3 linked regions of the Homo sapiens genome follow. The protein of the gene in region 2 purifies or fractionates together with the protein of the main gene of each other region. This does not show direct contact. Each region holds a gene or a part of one and is shown on either strand. Other genes may lie near its edges.

What was found.
Region 1: the proteins of RAB27A (region 2) and CHM purify together in Homo sapiens (co-immunoprecipitation; 2 studies listed by BioGRID and IntAct, with this or other methods). This does not show direct contact.
Region 3: the proteins of RAB27A (region 2) and GBA1 purify together in Homo sapiens (co-immunoprecipitation; 2 studies listed by BioGRID and IntAct, with this or other methods). This does not show direct contact.

What each region holds. Positions count from the first base shown.
Region 1 is NC_000023.11:86,037,524-86,044,558, reverse strand, and holds part of CHM (rab proteins geranylgeranyltransferase component A 1), read left to right. Parts: intron 1-7,035. UniProt on the Homo sapiens protein: Substrate-binding subunit of the Rab geranylgeranyltransferase (GGTase) complex.
Region 2 is NC_000015.10:55,286,793-55,293,647, reverse strand, and holds the start of RAB27A (ras-related protein Rab-27A), read left to right. Parts: upstream 1-3,834; 5' UTR 3,835-3,932; exon of another isoform or gene 3,933-4,196; intron 4,197-6,739; exon of another isoform or gene 6,740-6,855. UniProt on the Homo sapiens protein: Small GTPase which cycles between active GTP-bound and inactive GDP-bound states. In its active state, binds to a variety of effector proteins to regulate homeostasis of late endocytic pathway, including endosomal positioning, maturation and secretion.
Region 3 is NC_000001.11:155,233,917-155,238,249, forward strand, and holds the end of GBA1 (lysosomal acid glucosylceramidase isoform 1 precursor), read right to left. Parts: coding exon 4,218-4,333; intron 3,663-4,217; coding exon 3,425-3,662; intron 2,554-3,424; coding exon 2,329-2,553; intron 1,929-2,328; coding exon 1,765-1,928; intron 1,396-1,764; coding exon 1,279-1,395; intron 1,185-1,278; coding exon 1,079-1,184; 3' UTR 536-1,078; downstream 1-535. UniProt on the Homo sapiens protein: Glucosylceramidase that catalyzes, within the lysosomal compartment, the hydrolysis of glucosylceramides/GlcCers (such as beta-D-glucosyl-(1<->1')-N-acylsphing-4-enine) into free ceramides (such as N-acylsphing-4-enine) and glucose.

The DNA.
Region 1 (7,035 bases), on a different chromosome or scaffold from region 2:
AGCCAAGAACTCAACAGAAGAGCAGTCAAGATGGAAGTTATAAGATCTATATGATAATATTGACATGCTTCATACATAGGGGAATCCCTGAGATCATCACTTAGAACATATTCATCCTCATTTTAAAAATAATTCTAGCAAGCTCAGCATATTAGAACCACCCCCTTAGAAGATACAAGGAATGTTATCAACTTCTGCAAAGACTATGTTTGGTGGGGTTGCTATTAGACATACAAATGACAGTTTGTATAGGAAAGGGAAGAGAAAAACACCTAAAATGCAAACTTACATCAAACATCACAAAGGCCTGATAACATTTAGTGTAGTGACAAATACTCATTTTTCAGGTCATTCAACCCACATTTACTGAGAACCTAGTCCCTTCCCTTGTGAAGTTTACTGTATTGCCTATTCTCAGGAACGTTCTGGCCTTCCTAACAGTCATATCCCCAAAGCTGTTCTTAAGACAATGTAGGCTTTTCATTGCATCCTTCTTTCTTTTTGAAGACCATGTAGACATTCAGCCTGCATTTTTTCTTTTTAAAAGCACACTGCTCACATCTTTTGGAGTTCTTCCCCTAAGATGGGCTGCAGAGTAGGTTAGCTTAATTTTTCTACTGCATAGGATAAACACATATATTCTTTTGATTTAAGAGTTTTATTGTTAGCCAAGCATGGTGGCACGGGCCTGTAATCCCCATTACTCTATAGGCTAAGGCACAGGCATCCCTTGATCCTGGAAGGCGGAGGTTGCAGTGAGCTTAGATGGCACCACTGCACTCTAGTCAGAGAAACAGAGTGAGACTGTCTCAAAAAAAAAAAAAAGTTTCATTGGCCAGGTGCAGTGGCTCAGGCCTGTAATCCCAGCACTTGGGGAAGCCGAGGCAGGTGGATTGCTTGAGCTCAGGAGTTTGAAACCTCAGCCTCCCAAGTAGCTGAAATGGGTGACACAGCAAAACTGTATTTCTACAAAAAAAATACAAAAATTAATTGGGTATGGTGACACGTGCCTGTAGTCCCAGCTACTTGGAAGGCTGAGGTGGGAGGATTGCCTGAAACTGGGAGTTTGAGGCTGCAGTGAGCTATAGTTGTGTCACTGCACTTCAGCCTGGGCAACAGAGCAAGACCCTATCTCAAAAAAAAAAAAAAGTTTTATTGCTAAAGATTATGGGGAAAGAGAAGGGATAGCAAAGATAAACATGGAAATTATAAGGAGTACTGCCCCTAAATCCTGATTATCTTGCTAGATAGTGTTTAGCACCATACAGTAGTAGATGTGGCAGCATGGTGTATGATAATCACATGACCATCCTATTGTGTGATTTTGGGAAAATTACAGAATTTCTTGTGACATCATTTAGTTCATCTGTAAAGTGAGAAATTTCAATAGATGATCTCCAAGGTAGGGATCTACCAGCCCTAAAATTACCATTGTATATATCTATTTATGACACCATGTCCTTGAGAAAAGGCTAAATTCTGTTCTGTGTAGTCTTTTTAAGAAGGAAAGTCAGTGTTTCATATACTTCAGAAATTTTCCTATAAAAATGGCTGATAGGGTTTAGATATTTGTCCTGCCCAAATCTCATGTTGAAATGTTATCCTCGTTGTCGGAGGTGGGGCCTGATGGGATGTGTTTGGGTCATGGGAGTGGATCCCTCATGGCTTGGTACTCTTCTTGTAATAGTGAATTCGTTCTTGCAGGATCTGGTGGTTTATTTTTTAATTTTTTTTTTGAGACAGGGTCTTGCTCTGTCACCCTAGTTGGAGTGCAGTGGCACAATCATGGCCCACTGCAGCCTTAACCTCCTGGGCCCAAGCAATCCTCCCACCTCAGACTCCTGAGTAGCTGAGATTACAGACATGCATCACCATGCCTGGCTAATTTTTTTTTTTTTATTTTTGTAGAGATGGGGTCTGCCTATGTTGCCCAGGCTGGTTTTGCACTTCTGAACTCAAGCAATCTACCTGCCTTGGTGGCCCAAATTGCTGGGATTACAGATGGGAGCCACTGTGCCTGGTCGACTGGTTGTTTAAAAGTGTGTGGCATCTCCCCACACTTGCTTGCCTTGCCTCTCACCAAGGGAGATGCCTGCTTCCCCTTTGCCTTCTGCTATGACTAAAAGCTCCCTCAGGCCTCCCTAGAAGCCGAGCAGATGCCTGTACCATGCTTGTACAGCCTGCAGAACCCTGAGCCAATTAAACCTCTTTTCTTTATAAATTACCCAGTTTCAGGCATTCCTTTATGGCAACACAGGAACAGCCTAATACAGTGACTGATTAGAAAAGGCATTTTCTTAAAAATGATAGGCTGCTTTTTTCAGAAAAGGTCACTTAAGTAGCCTTTCCTTGATGTTGGGATGTTCCAGTCCCATTCCTTGATGTTGGTGAATTTAAACATTAAGGTAGTTAACCTTGACTGGCAGCTCATTGACTTATGATGATGTTGGAATAGCATCACTTCTGTAAGCCTTGGGGGATAGTAATATTGCAGGAGGAGTTGTGAAAACTGATATTTACCAAATATCTGTTTGTGCCAGCCTTAACACAAGTGATTTCCTATATTTCTAACTTAATCTTCTCCCAGGATGCCTGAATGTGGTTCTCACATCACAGGATGTCCATAGTCCTCCCTGTGTACTTCCAAAATCTTCACATCTATTGTCTACAGTGGATTTTTAAAAATTGTAAGATGCCACCTATTAGTGGATCATGGAGTGAATTCCAGCATTATAAAAATGAGGTAGAATATATCAGAATGCATGTAGTAAGGATGAATGTTGTTTTTTATATATATATGTATATATATATATATATATATATATATATATACACACACACCATATATATAACATATATATATATATACATAAACACACATACACACATATGTTTTTGGGGAGGGCAGGTTCAAAAAATTTAAAGCATAGAGTATATTGATCAGCTGAATGACATAGTGAGTAGGAGTGAAATGGTATTTCAAAAGTCCTTTCTTTGTTGTCTTCTCTTTTGTTCACCAGCTTGCATTATTTATCATTTGTTTTCCTCATAGTTTTTGGAACAGATTTAGTATCGGTCTTATTTGAGGTATAGTATGAAACACTCCGTTGTCAGCGTAAGAGATGCTATAGGAGTGAAAGATAGCCTGCAGATTTTGCTGTTCTGAAAAATGCTTTGCACTTCTTCAGGCATTTATTGATGGAAAAGTATGTTTTTGTTTGCTTCCAATACCTAGAAAAGTAAAGAGTTATCTAACTCTGGAGAAGACTCTCTGGGAGATGCTTACCCTTCTCTGTAAATCATGAATTTGAGCCAATACCTCAGAGAGAGCCACATCTGTTGCCATAATTTCCTCTGCAGCATCATTTTCATCTCCCATGCCTCATGTCATTTTTCTCATTTTCTCCAGTGTTTTCATGATGTTTTGGATAACAGGCTACAGTAATTAAATTCAAATATGGCAGCCCACCATTACATTCTCATGTTTAACATAAAATCCCAATGCACAGAAACAATTATAATTCCATATAATTGACCTGTTAACTCATGCTAAATCATCTGCTATTCAGTCTCAGTGCATTCTTTAACTAAAAAGTTAGTCTGTGCCTGTTCTGTATATAAATATATTTAAAAGTAAAATAGGCTAAAAATCACTGTTGGTGCTCATTGGAAACATTTTGGGGGCGTTTAGTTGTGGCCAGCAAAATAGGGATACATTGAAAGGTTGATGTTTTGTTTTTGCTTTTCTAATAATTTCATTTAAGGTTTGGTGTAAAAAGAGTTGATAATTTATCACAGATACTGCTTTTTTAGAGCATGATTATGAGAGCTAGCATGTTATCATATTGAGGGTGTTTTTGAAAAGAACAGTTTGCAAACAGACAGGAGAAGAGACCAGAGGCAGCTTGGCCAGTATGGTGCTTAAATAAGTGTTTCATCTCATACTGGATTTTATCAGGAGCTGAAGTTGGTAATGTATTCCTTGACTGATTTGGTTTTTATCACATTTTAAAAAGTACTGGTGAAGCAGGATATTTTCCTGACCCCTTCATGGGACTTGTGAAGGGAGCACCCTGTTTACTCAGCCCACCGCTTTCAACTCCTCATAGGAGGGAGCACGTGAGTGAACAAGGCAGGAACTGGAATACATGAGTGCTGGAGTCAGCCTGCCGCTCTTGTGCCAGGAGGAATGAACTCCACTCACTCGGACCTGCTGTGTTTCACCCCTCACAAGAGGGGATGTGCAGTTGAGTGGGTGCAGGAGCCGGGGCGAGTGCTTTTGGGCACTGGCAGGAGTCAACTCTGTGCTGGCCCTGTGGTAGCATCTCCGGGGGTGGTGCCTGCAACCCCTGAAGCTCCAGAGGGAATGTTACAGTGCTCTTTTAGCTCTGCTGTCCGCAGACGGCTTAAGGGTTAACAGCTCAGTGGGCCCTCTGCCTTTTTGTGTTAATCGGCTGCCTTCTACCAGTGAGGGCAAAGGGCAAGTGTGACAGCCTTTTTGTGTCCACACTCATCGTTCCCGAGCTCTTGTCCGGCATCCAGGAGAAATGAGGTCACATGAATGAATTGAAGGATGGTAAATGTAGGGGATCTTATTGCTGATGGAGATGGCTCTTAGTGGGAAGGGGAGCTGCAAAGGGCAGGAAGGTAGTCTTCCCCTGAATGCCAGCTGTCTCTGGCCAGATTCTTCTTCGAAGTTACGCTGTCAAGGTGTCCCTCTGAAGTCGAGCCACTTCTCTCTGATGTCCAGCTGTAGTCTCTAATGTCCAACTGCTTCTCTTCTCTCTGCTGGCTGAGCCTGGGGTTTTTATGTACACAGGATGGGGTGTGGGGTGGGCCGTAAGTGGTTTCGGAAAAGGCAACATTCGCACGGGAAAATGGGGATATAAGTTCTCACTTTGCGTCATGGTTTCAGGCTTGAGGGTGGGGTTTTCTCAGGGACCTGCCCTTTTCTGCCTAGAATTTCCCTGCCTCCTGTCCCTGTCACTCACTAACTTCTACTCTTTCTTTTGAGTATTCTCACCTGTCTTTTTTTTTTTTTTTTTTTTGGTCTAGGCCAGTGTTCTCATTGAGTTATTATGGCTACTAGTTAATGGTGGTTTTAATCATTTTATATTGCTTTGAAATGTTTTGAATCATGTTTCTGTGATCTGACTTTGCACATTTGTTAAACTAGTCTTATTTATGTGGATTTAAAATCATCATGAGAAAATTTACACAAGCTAAAGTATAGAGAAAAAGTTTTACACATGGATATGAGGCATATTAAGAAGATGCTGAGCTGTGAGTTCAAATCCTTATTTTCTACACCTGTGTTACTTTGGTTTAAGCTATGTAAGCAAAATCAATGATAATTAGAAAATTGTTTTTAGTACCTACAACACACTGTCAAACACATGAAAAATATTGTCTAACATTTGTTATATGCCAAGCACGGTGATAAGCCCCTACAATGCATTGTCTCATTTTCACAGTAACCCTGCAGTAGATACTATATCATCTCCATTTTTCAAATGTGAAGCCTGAGGCTCAGCTAAGTTTGATGTAGGTGAAACAGTTAAGACGAAAGTTTTTCTGACTAAGGTTGAGGTATTAGATTAAGTTTGCTAGAATCTTTCAATTGAAAAAATAGCTCATAGTATCAAGATGAGATTATTTTAACCTGGGTTTGTGGTTGGCAGTTGTTTTATTTTGGAGAGTTATCATTGTTGACATTAAAATCCTGATTCCAGCAGTAACCTCATGATGTCAGCTTCTTATTATTGACAGCATCATGACATCTGTGTCAGCTTGCAAACCTTCTTTTGATGAAGGTGAACGGAATGACCTGGTTGTGTTTATCCCTTAAAACTGAAGAGAGAATCAACCACTAAAGCAATGGCCAGAAATGGGATCAGAGATTACAGTTACATTTTAAGAAATGATTTGCTTCAGTAGGAATTCTTCATTGATCCTGTAAACCAAAATAATTTAGATTACCAAATTAATTTAGAAAGTTTATTTTACCAAGGTTAAGGATGCACCTGTGGCACAGCCTCAGGTCCTGATGACGTGCCCCAGGCGGTAGGGGCACAGCTTGATTTTACATGTTTTAGGGAGACATGAAACATTAATCAACGTTTGTAAGATGTATAATTCATTGGTTCCATCAGGAAAGGCCAGACAACTCGAAGTGGGGAGGAGGCTTCTGGGTCATAGTTAGTTAAGAGACAAATGAGGAATAGTCACTTATGCCTTAGTCTGTAGTGAAACAGTAGGGCGGAGGAAGCCATCAGATACGCATTTGTCTCATGGGAACAGAGGAATGACTTTGAGTTCTGCCTGTCCTTTGGTTGTCCACAAGGAATTTCCTTATGGGCAAATTGTGAGGGAGGTATGTAGCTTTTTAAAAATCTTTGTAGTGATCTTATTTAGGAATAGAAAGGGAGAGAGGTTTGCCCAACACAATTCCCAACTTGACTTTTCCTTTTGGTTTAGTGATTTTGGGGAGATTTGTTTTCCTTTCACAATCCCAAGGTACATAATTTCCCACTGAAATACTTGTGCATGTGCTGGGGTTTGCCATTTTGTGTCTTTTTTAGTGTTCTTCCAAATTAAATTTTCAAGATCAAATATGGGACTCATTGTCCTGTTTATGGAGCTTTTTTTCTTTTGGTTGACTATTCTTTTGTTTCCTACAGTCTTCAACAACTGTTAGTGCTTACAATGGATACATCATGCATCTTAATTGATAGGATGGATATGATAATACCTTTTTTGGTCCAAGGTCCCGCTCATTAAAAAAAATAGTTTATAAAGCTGAAAAGTTTTTATTTCTATTTTTTGTAAAATGATTTTCATGATAGGATTTTATATAAAGGGGAAGGGTTTTTTGTATCATTTTTATAACATTTTTGAAATGAATACTTATTCTCTTTCATCATCTATTTTAGACTCACAGTTTTATGAGTAATGCAGTAAAGGTCATGTGGCACATTAGTAAAATATGTTCTGAACACAGAAACTATTCTCCTTATCACAAATTAAATTTTATGT
Region 2 (6,855 bases):
CCGCGCCTGGCCATGTCTTTTCATTTATTTAGATTTTCTTTTTTTTTCAGTAGTGGTTTGTGGTTTTCAATGTATAAATCCTGCACCTTCTTGGTTAAATTTATGCCTAGGTATTTTATTCTTTTTGATATTATTGTAAATGGAACTTTTAAAGTTTCCTTTTCAATTGTTCATTTCTAATACATTGAAATGCAACTGATTTTTATGTGTTGATCTAGTATCTTGCATCTTTGCTTATTTCATTTATTAGCACTAATAGATTTTTTATTTAGGATTTTCCATATATAATATTATGTAATTGGTTCCTTTTGTTGGAAAGGGATATTAAGAAATCAACATCCAGGTGCTAAGTGTACTCGTAGCTACTTTGATATAATTGCTTCTAGGACCTCTTAGCAGACAGAGCTAGATAATACATACATATACACATACATATATCTATATTTATTTATTAAAATCCATGAATTCTTACTGATTCCATCCACTTTAATTCTATTAGGAAAACTGGAGGCAGAACTCTCCATGTTGCAAGTAGCAGTGTCAGAAAAGCCCCAGTGTGGGAAGCAAGAGGTATACTGTGATCGATTCTGTGGCTGCAGTAAGAAGTGGCGTAGAGATGACTTTGAACTGACACACGAGATGTGTTCAGTGTACTTAGTTTCTGTAATAACACTCTCCTTGTTTTCTTCCTACCTCTCTGGATACTCTTTTTTTGGATTCCTTTTTGAACTTCCATTGCTCATGCCTTAAATGCTGGGTGTTCATCTGGGTTCTGTAACAAGCCTATTGCCCTCTCAGCTCACTTTCTAGATTAGCTCATTGATTCTAATGCCTTCCAGTACCTTTTGGGTAATAGCTACAGCACATGTTTTCTGTGCTTCAGATAGGCCTGTTTGACTACATACTAAACAGCTTCACTTGGATATTCTGTTGGTGCTAGTGTGTCAAAATGGAAATGTCCTAAACTCATCACTATGGCCTATTTCACCCTTCCTCCTGGTTGCAACTAGGTTTTCTTCCTGTTGCTTAATGGTTTCTTGTTGCCCAAACCAGAAACTGGGCATCCCCATGGACTACTGCCTCTCTTTCACACCCCTACATCCCAGTCCTCTTGATTCACTCTCCTAAATATGTCAAATATGTCCATTCATCTCCATCCTTATGGCCACTGCCGTAATCAGATCGCTATTATCCCTCACTTGGATTACAGCGTGCTAATTGACCTCTCAGACCCATTCTTAGAACCATTAAAAACTTGAGTTCTGAGTTTTAGGCCTGGCTGTGCCACTTATTAGCTGCATGATCTTGGTCAGACTGCTTAATCGCTTTAGGACTCAGTTTCCTCATCTGTAATACAGAGGTAAGAATAGTACCTACTTCATAAAGTAGTTGTAAGACACGTATGAGGTGATGTAGTCAAAACTATTAGCATATTGGCTGACTCATAGTAAATGATCAAGAAATGTTAGTTATGATCATGATCATCATTGCAGGGTTATTCACCGCACAGCCTCTGTTATTTCTCCATTTTCTTTTCTGATTGCTTTCAGTCTTTCAGCTTTTCTGAACCTCTTCCTGTTGCTCCAGTGTTGAATGCTATCTTTTGCTTCCAGGCCTTCCCTCTGCTCCATTTTCCTGGAATTCTCTTCTCCCTTGCCCCTTGCCCTCATTCATTCTAAGTTTATCCTTAACTTTCTCTTGATTTGGTGTCATTTATCTGTGCTCCAATAACACTCTTTAACTTCCTTTATTGAGGCTCTTATCTCACTACTGGAGTTGCCTACTTATTCGATGGTCTCTCAAGTAAGTCCTGACGTCAGGGACCAGTTTACCTTGTTTACTAATAGGGTGCCTGACTTGATGAATGAGTGAATGAATGGGTGATGAATGGGCCATAGCACCATCCTAGGTTTTCTGATCTCCTGTCTGGTATACTCCTGGTGAGAGCCTTGCCTGGCCACAGGAGTGGGGAAAGCTGAAGGCAGGCTTTCCCTGTGCCATATCAGCCATTAGCAATTACTACATTATTGGTTTCCCAGATTTTAGCTGATCAGTGATTCCCAGGACTATTCCTCTGGACATGAACATGAGGCTACCTTTTCCCTTTTTTTTTTTTTTTTTTTTTTTTTTTTTTTTTGAAACAGAGTCTCGCTCGGTCGCCCAGGCTGGAGTGCAGTGGCGCCATCTCGGCTCATTGCAACCTCCACCTCTCGGGTTCAAGCGATTCTCCTGCCCTCAGCCTCCTAAGTAGCTGAGACTACAGGCGCGTGCCACGACGCCCTGCTAATTTTTTGTATTTTTAGTAGAGACGGGGTTTCACCGTGTTAGCCAGGATGGTCTCGATCTCCTGACTTCGTGATCTGCCGGCCTCGGGCTCCCAAAGTGCTGGGATTACAGGCGTGAGCCACCTAACCCGGCCTTTTTCTCTCTTAACCTCACCAACAGTCTGATGGCCCTTCTCTCACACGGGAAGAGCTCTTGAAGTTATCAACCTGTTAGGACATTTGTTATCTCTAAACCCGAGTTTACTGTGTTATGTTTGCCTGGAAATGTTATATCAAATGTATGAAATTGCCAACTGTTTGTAATTTCATATGGTTCATCCTATATGTGATTTTGTAAATTGGACCCACCTGAGAAGCTAACTGCTGTAATGCCAACTGTGAGTAGCTACAGACTGGAAAGGTGATGGAGTTGACCGGGTGGGCCTGCGACAGCTGGAATTTGCGGTGGAGGTAGACACAAGTCAGCGAGACGGCTTAGAAGGCAGAAGGGAAGCTGAACTAAGGCTTCTCAACATTTTACTCTGCTTAGAAGTGGAAACATTTGGTTCAAAGGGCCTTTGCCTTAGACTCCATAGGGACAGGCCCAAGGGCTGCTGTTCACACCTCCTGGCCACTGAGAGGGATGAACTTGGCTGCCTCTGAGTGGGAACCACGAGGTCTGACCCCCTACGCAGTCCCAGGTTCACTACCCCGCAGGCCGGAGCGACACCGTTGGCGCTGGGAGAAGAGAGCCGCTGGGTGGCAGCAAAGGCGCGCAGGTTTCTTCCGACAGAGGCGGTTCCTTAACATACTGTAGTTTTCTTCTTTTTAAACTCATTGCTCTAACACTCTTAGAAATTTACAGTGGTTTTATATTCTTGAATTACACAGTGTGAGCAGAGACTCCGTTTGCCATTTCCTCCCGGAATTACATTGATTTTTTTCCTGCGAAATTTTTTACTTATTTTTCTCCCATGTTATTTCCAGGAATCCTGGGCATTCCCTTGCCCCGGAAACGCCGTGTCCAGGCCGACCTAAGCCAGGAGCCGCAGGGGCGGGAAGCCGGGGGCAGGGCCGGGCCTGGGACGCCGCCTCAGGAGCCGCGCGGACTCGGGAACCTCGGGCGGGGCCGGCGTGAGTACGCCCGGCACCTCCGGCTGCTACGGTGGCGACCGCGAACTGATGCCGTGGAAAACACCCTTAGAACATGGCTTTTTGGGGAGGTGAATAGGGGAGAGTCCCCAAACGACACCTCGCCGCGCACCGGTCCTTGGTGCAGTTTGTAAATGTCCCTCCTGTGTCCCAAAACGAAAACACTCCTATATTTTGTAGCGCCTTCCAGAATGGGGCAGCGGAAACTAGTGTTGGGACAAAGGAGGCGAGCGGGGCCTTTTCGGGGCTCACAGAGGACCCCTCGGAGGCGCGGCCGCCGGGGAGAGCGCGACAGCACCCCGCCCCCCGCCAGCCGGGCGGGGGCCGCTCCCGAGGTGACAGGAGAAGGCGGGAGGTGGAGGAGAGAAGGTCCCGCCCCACCTCGCTCTCCTTTACGGGAAGTGATGTGGGGCCAGGCGGAAAATACCCGCCAACGACCCAAAAAAGGCCGGCGGCGGGTGGACGCGGCGCGCGAGGACCCGAGCCAGGCGGGGACAGGACGGCGGGGCGAGCCAGGTGAGGGGGCCTGAGGAGCGGGAGGCGCGCGGCGGGTCCGGTCCCTCCGGGAGGGCCGAGCGAGGCGTCCCCCTGGGGCCGTCCTAGGGCTGGGGTCCGAGTGCGCCGCCCTTCCTCCCCGCCTCCAGGCGCCCGAGCCCGCCTGAAGAGTGGCTTCTCTCCCAGGCCCTCAGCGCAGACCCCAGTGATGACAACTGCCTGGTGCTGGCCAGGTGCGGTCCCAGGTCCGGCCAGGGTCTCAGATCGCCTCCGGGTTGCATCCAGGTGGGAGGATGCCCATCAGGGGTAGGAAACTTTCCAGGAGGGAAAGGAGGAAAGTCCCCGACCTCCCGCACGCCCCCCGGTTCATTCCTCCCTCTTTTGCTTTCAGTTTAACTGTTTAACCTGGTTGCCCTCCGGTTGGTGAGGGTCTGGACTGCAGACTAGCTGCGAGGGAGGGGCTCTCTCTTCTCCTGTCAGTTAGACTGAAAACTACCTGGCAGCCAGGCCCTCCGGTCGGGACTGGTGGTGGTGCAGATATGATGACAGGCTTTGGTAACTATTGCCAAAGCCTGTCTCTGTCCCAATAGATCACCAGTTCAGCAAAGTCAGGCCTGAAGCGAAGGGAGTCTTGTGAGCCCTGGACTGAGGAGCCTTCCCAGCCTTTCCGCTCCTGCTGGCCACCTGGGCCCACATGGCCTCAGGGTCTTCTGCCACAGGGTCCTTACCCCTACAGCTTAACAGCTGTTCTTTCCTTCTGGATGGATTCTCACATTTTATGGTTGGTTGATCAGTCAGATGTTGGAATTGGGGGTAGAGGGATTATAGAGTTGTGTGTGCTATTTAAGTTTTCTGTAATCATTGCTAATTAAATTTGTTGATTCTCCACTCACTGTTCTTGTTCTTTTTTTTTTTTCGGCCTTAAAAACTTGCTTTAGAGGGAAAATACAATCTGGAAAACAGTTTCTGCAGATGGTTAGAAGTGAAGAAAGGTTAATATAATGCTGAAGGAACTTGACTGAGGATCATTATTTTCTGTATTTTATGTTGGTTTATGTTGTTTTATGTTTTCATTCCTACTTTTTTCTTCCTTCCTTTCTACCATTCTCTCTTCCTCCCTCCCTCCCTTTTTTCTTCCTTCCTTAATTTCTGTGACGTGCCTTGATTTTTAATTTCGTTGAAGTATATTTAATCTATTTTTCCTTTTTTTTCTTTTGAGACAGAGTCTCACTCTGTCGCCCAGGTAGGAATGCGGTGGCATGATCTTGGCTCACAGCAACCTCCGCTTCCTGGGTTGAAGTGATTCTTTTGCTTCAGACTCCAGAGTAGCTGGAATTACAGGTGTGTGCTACCATGCTTGGCTAATTTTTGTATTTTTAGTAGAGGCGGGGTTTTGCTATGTTGGCCAGGCTGGTCTTGAACTCCTGACCTCAAGTGATCAACCTGCGTCAGCCTCCCAAAGTGCTGGGATTATAGGCTTGAGCCACTGCACCGAGCCTATTTTTCCTTTTGTTGTTTGTGCTTTTGATGTCAAAGTTAAGAAAACATTGTCAAATTCAAGATCATGAAGATTTATACTTATGTTTTCTTCTAAAAGTTTTATAGTTTTTAGCTCTTACATTTCATTCTTTGACCCATTTTAAGTTAATTTTTAAATATGGTGTGAGGCAGGGGGTCTGACTTCAACTTTTTGCATGTGGATATCCAGTTCTTTCAGCACCATTTGTTTAAAAGACTGTTCCTCTTTGAATAGTTTTGGCACCTCTGTTGAGATAAATTGACCATGAATGTAAAGGTTTATTTCTGGACTGTCAGTTCTATTCCATTGATCTGTATGTCTGTCCTCAGGCTAGTATCATACTACCTTGATTATTGTAGCTACATAGTGTTTTGAAATCAGGATATGTGAGTCCTCCAACCTTGTTCTTTTTCAAGATTGTTTTGACTATCCAGTCCCTTGAATTTCCATATGAATTTTTTTTTTTTTTCGAGATGGAGTTTTGCTCTTATTTACCAGGCTGGAGTGCAATGGCACGATCTCAGCTCACTGCAACCTCCGCCTCCCTGGTTCAAGTGATTCTCCTGCCTCATCCTCCTGAGTAGCTGGGATTACGGGCATGTGCCACCATGCCTGGCTAATTTTATATTTTTAGTAGAGACAGGGTTTCTCCATGTTGGTCAGGCTGGTCTCGGACTCCCGATCTCAGGTGATCTGTCTGCCTCAGCCTCCCAAAGTGCTGTGATCATAGGCATGAGCCACCATGCCTGGCCTTCCACATGAAATTTAAAGTCAGCTTCTCAATTTCTATTGTTTTGGTTCTAAAATAGATGTAAGGGTTTTAAAGTGAGCAACAATCTCTAGGAGCCAGATTTTTGAGTTTTCTCTCCCAAAGCTGCTTTTCCCCTAGTCTTCTCCATCTTAGTGAATGGCAACTTCACTCTTCCAGATGCTCACACCAAACACCCTGAAATCACTCTTGATTCTTTCTCTTATACCCCACATTAAATTCCTCAGCAGGCCGGGTGCGGTGGCTCACGCCTGTAATCGCAGCACTTTGGGAGGCCGAGACAGGTGGATCACGTGAGGTCAGGAGTTCAAGACCAGGCTGGCCAACATGGTGAAGCCCTGTATCTACTAAAAATACAAAAATTAGCGGGGCGTGGTGGTGGGTGCCTGTAATCACAGCTACTCAGGAGGCTGAGGCAGGAGAATCGCTTGAACCCAGGAGGCGGAGGTTGCAGTGAGCTAAGATCGTGCCATTGCACTCCAGCCTGGGCGACAGAGTGTGAGTCCGTCTCAAAAAAAAAAAAAAAAAAAAAAAAAGAATACATCTAGGATGATAACCATTTCTCACCACTTCTGCTGCTTCCACCAAGTTCTATCATCTCTGTCACCTGGATTACTGCAAAAGCCTTCTGAAGGGCTTCCCTGCTTCCACCCTTA
Region 3 (4,333 bases), on a different chromosome or scaffold from region 2:
CAAAGCTGCCCAGTGGGAAGCTGCAGGTCCACCTGCGTGGGCTGCACAACCTCTGTGCCTATTGTACCCACATTCTCAGTCTCTACTTCCCCTGGGATGGAGGTAAGGGGCAGATGGGAGGGGCAGCCCTGGGGAGAGTGGGCAGGGATCCAAGAACTAGTTCTCCTAACACACCTTCCTTCCTTGACCCTCAGCTGAGGTACCACCGCAACGCCAGACACCAGCAGGCCCAGAGACTGAGGAGGAGCCATACCGGCGCCGGAACCAGATCCTATCTGTGCTGGCAGGACTGGCAGCCATGGTGGGCTACGCCTTGCTCAGCGGCATTGTCTCCATCCAGCGGGCAACGCCTGCTCGGGCCCCAGGCACCCGGACCCTGGGCATGGCTGAGGAGGATGAAGAGGAATGATTTGTCCTCACGCTCCCAAGACTGGTTTTTCTACTCTCATGCATTCCAGAGGCCCCCGTGCCTCCTCGTTGTTGGTACAGCCGGACACGGGGTGCTGCCACCCAGAATAAAGCCACTCACACTGACTGGGCTCAAACATTTTCTCCTTTAAGAGCTGCCATTTTTCCTGGCTGGTGCCATAGGAATCATCTGGGTGCCTGGGCACACCCGCTGCTGCTTTAAGGCTTCCGCCCTGATGCTGACACTGCTGCTCCACGGGCCCAGTTCTGCATCTCCAGGAAAGACAAACAGTCTCCAGTTTTGGGCCCAGCTTTCCTAGTCTCTTCTTTTCCTTACCCTCAGCCCTGATCTTGTGTTTGTACGGACAGTGAGCTCACCCTAGGCCTGGACCCAGGCCCAGTTTCCAAAGCAAGCAGCACACAGCGCATGTTCACATAAGCATGGGGGCTGGGGGGACACTGGGGCTTACTGATCTTTTTCTAGGGGCCTCCAGCCCCTGGCACCACCTAGAGGGGAAAGTGAGTCACCCAAACCATTGCCCCTGGGCTTACGTCGCTGTAAGCTCACACTGGCCCTGCTGTGCCCTCTTTAGTCACAGACAGCGTGTGAGCTGACTCTGTCCCTTTAATGCCCAGGCTGAGCCCAGTGCCTCCTTGAGTATCTGCTCCATCACTGGCGACGCCACAGGTAGGTGTGAATGGAGTAGCCAGGTGAGATTGTCTCCAGGAAGCCCACAGCAGGATCCTTGATGGTAAGAGGCACATCCTTAGAGGAGCTAGGGAGCAGGGAGGAGAAGCTGAGAGTGTGATCCTGCCAAGGCCCCCAACGCTGTCTTCAGCCCACTTCCCAGACCTCACCATTGCCCTCACCGGTTTAGCACGACCACAACAGCAGAGCCATCGGGATGCATCAGTGCCACTGCGTCCAGGTCGTTCTTCTGACTGGCAACCAGCCCCACTCTCTGGGAGCCCTCAGGAATGAACTTGCTGAATGTGGGAACAGATGGTCAGAGTCCCTCGGGGTACCTCCCATGAAACCCTCATCTAAGAAGTCACCCACCCACGGACCCACCCCATAACTCCTGCAGAGGCTCTGCCCTGGCTCTCTAGGCCTGGAGCCATGCTGCTGGGCACTGACCCTGCTTTTCTGCATCGCAGTCCAGCCTCAGGCATTGGGGTTTTCTGTTGCTACCTAGTCACTTCCTGCCTCCATGGTGCAAAAGGGGATGGGTGTGCCTCTTCCGAGGTTCCACCCTGAACACCTTCCTGCTCCCTCGTGGTGTAGAGTGATGTAAGCCATCCGATGTAGGAGATGATAGGCCTGGTATGGAATGGGGGTGCCCGCCCTCCACTCACCTGAAGTGGCCAAGGTGGTAGAACATGGGCTGTTTGTAAAACGTGTCCTTGGTGATGTCTACAATGATGGGACTGTCGACAAAGTTACGCACCCAATTGGGTCCTCCTTCGGGGTTCAGGGCAAGGTTCCAGTCGGTCCAGCCGACCACATGGTACAGGAGGTTCTAGGGTAAGGACAAAGGCAAAGAGACAAAGGCGCAACACTGGGGGTCCCCAGAGAGTGTAGGTAAGGGTCACATGTGGGAGAGGCAGCTGTGGGTAGGTCAGCCCTGTGAGGGGCACATTCCTTAGTAGCTAAGGAGTTGGGGGTGTGAAGATCCAGGCATCTCAAGGGGAGCTGAGAAGTCTGAGGCAGCTGCAAGTGCCTCAGTAGTTGCAAAAGGGGCAATGAGGTGTGCAGACCTGTGAAGGAAAGGGAAGATAGGGAATCATGGTTCCCCAGAGTTGCTCAAAAGGGCAGGCTAGCTGGGGAAAGCTGGACAGGAAGGGCTTCTGTCAGTCTTTGGTGAAACTAGTAAGAGGTCTGAGGTCTGCTTTGCAGGAAGGGAGACTGGGGTGGCTTACCGTGATGATGCTGTGGCTGTACTGCATCCCTCGATCCCAGGAGCCTAGCCGCACACTCTGCTCCCAGAACTTGGAGCCCACACAGGCCTCTGAGGCAAAGAGCATGGTGTTGGGGAACAGGCGGTGTGTCTCCCCTAGGGTGGCTTTGGCTGGAGCCAGAAAGTCCAGGTACCAATGTACAGCAATGCCATGAACATATTTAGCTGCTTCTGGGTCTGTCAGTACCTGCAAAGGAAGAGCAACTGATCCTGGACCTTGCACACAGGCTTCTGGAACTTCTAGTTCCTGTTGTAGGAATCCTGGAGTTGGGTGACGGGAAGAATGCAACTAGAGAGGTTTGGGGAGATTTTTTTTTGTTTTTGAGACAGGATGTCACTCTGTCACTCGGGCTGGAGTACAGTGGCGCAATCACGACTCACTGCAGCCTTGACTTCCTAGGGTCAACTGATCCTCCCACATTAGCCTCCTGAGTAGCTGGGACTACACGGGTGCCACACCCAGCTAATTTGTGTGTGTATGTGTGTGTATGTATGTGTGTGTGTGTATATATATATACATATAAACACATATATATGTATATACACATACATACATGAACCACCACCCCCAGCCTAGATAGTTTTGTTTTGTTTTGTTTCGAGATGGAGTCTCGCTCAGCCTCCCAGGCTGGAGTGCAGTGGCGCGATCTCGGCTCACCGCAACCACCATCTCCCGGGTTCAACTGATTCTCCCTTCTCAGCCTCCTGAGTAGCTGGGATTACAGACACCCACCATCATGCCCAGATAATTTTTTTTTTTTGTATTTTAGTAGACACAGGGTTTCAACACGTTGGCCAGGGTGGTCTTAAACTCCTGACCTCAGGTGATCACCCGCCTCGGCTTCCCAAAGTGCTGGGTTTGCATGAGTGAGCCACCTCGCCCAGCCCCTAGAAAGGTTTCAAGCGACAACTGTGGGATCCATGGCACCCTGGAGGTCCAGGGGAATGGTGCTCTAGGAATCCATAGTTGGGTAGAGAAATCGCTCTAAGTTTGGGAGCCAGTCATTTGGATGCTGGATTTGAAGGTCACTGGAGCACCATGGAGGTCCAGGCCTTACCACCTTTGCCCAGTGGGGCAGCAGCAAGCGTTGGTCATCCAGCATGAGTAGGCGGACATTGTGGTGAGTACTGTTGGCGAGGGTAGGACCTAGGTCACGGGCAATGAAGTCTCGCTGATGTTCAGGGGTGAAGCCCAGGCACTGGAAGGGGTATCCACTCAACAGCCCAGCAGAAGGCTCATTTTCAGCTGTCACTGCCCAGAACTGTAACTTGTGCTCAGCATAGGCATCCAGGAACCTGGCAAGAGAAAGGTCATGAATGATCCGGCCAAGAAAGTGGACCAGACCAGCTGGGTGTGGTGGCTCACACCTGTAATCCCAGCACTTTGGGAAGCCGAGGCAGGTGGATCACTTGAGTTCAGGAGTTCGAGAACAGCCTGGCGAAACCCCGTCTCTACTAAAAATAGAAAAATCAGCTGGGCCTGGTGGCAGGCGCCTATAATCCCAGCTACTTGGAAGGCTGAGGCAGGAGAATTGCTTGAACTCAGGAGGCAGAGGTTACAGTGAGTGAAGATGGCGCCACAGCACTCCAGCCTGGGTGACAGAGAGAGAGACTCCTTCTCAAAAAAAAAAAAAAGAAGAAAAATAAAAAGAAAGTGGGCCAGACCGAGAGAACAGGAAGCCTGATGGAGTGGGCAAGATTGACAGGCCCAAGGCTGAAAGGCCCAGAAGGTAGAAAGGTGAGCTGAGGACAGGCAGATCTGGAAGTGGAACTAGGTTGAGGGTTGGGACACAGATCAGCATGGCTAAATGGGAGGCCAGTCCTGATCCCACATCCTTGCTGATCCCTTACTTCACAAAGTATCTGGCCCAGGTCTGGTGGTAGATGTCTCCGGGCTGTCCCTTGAGTGACCCCTTCCCATTCACCGCTCCATTGGTCTTGAGCCAAGTGGGTGATGTCCAGGGGCT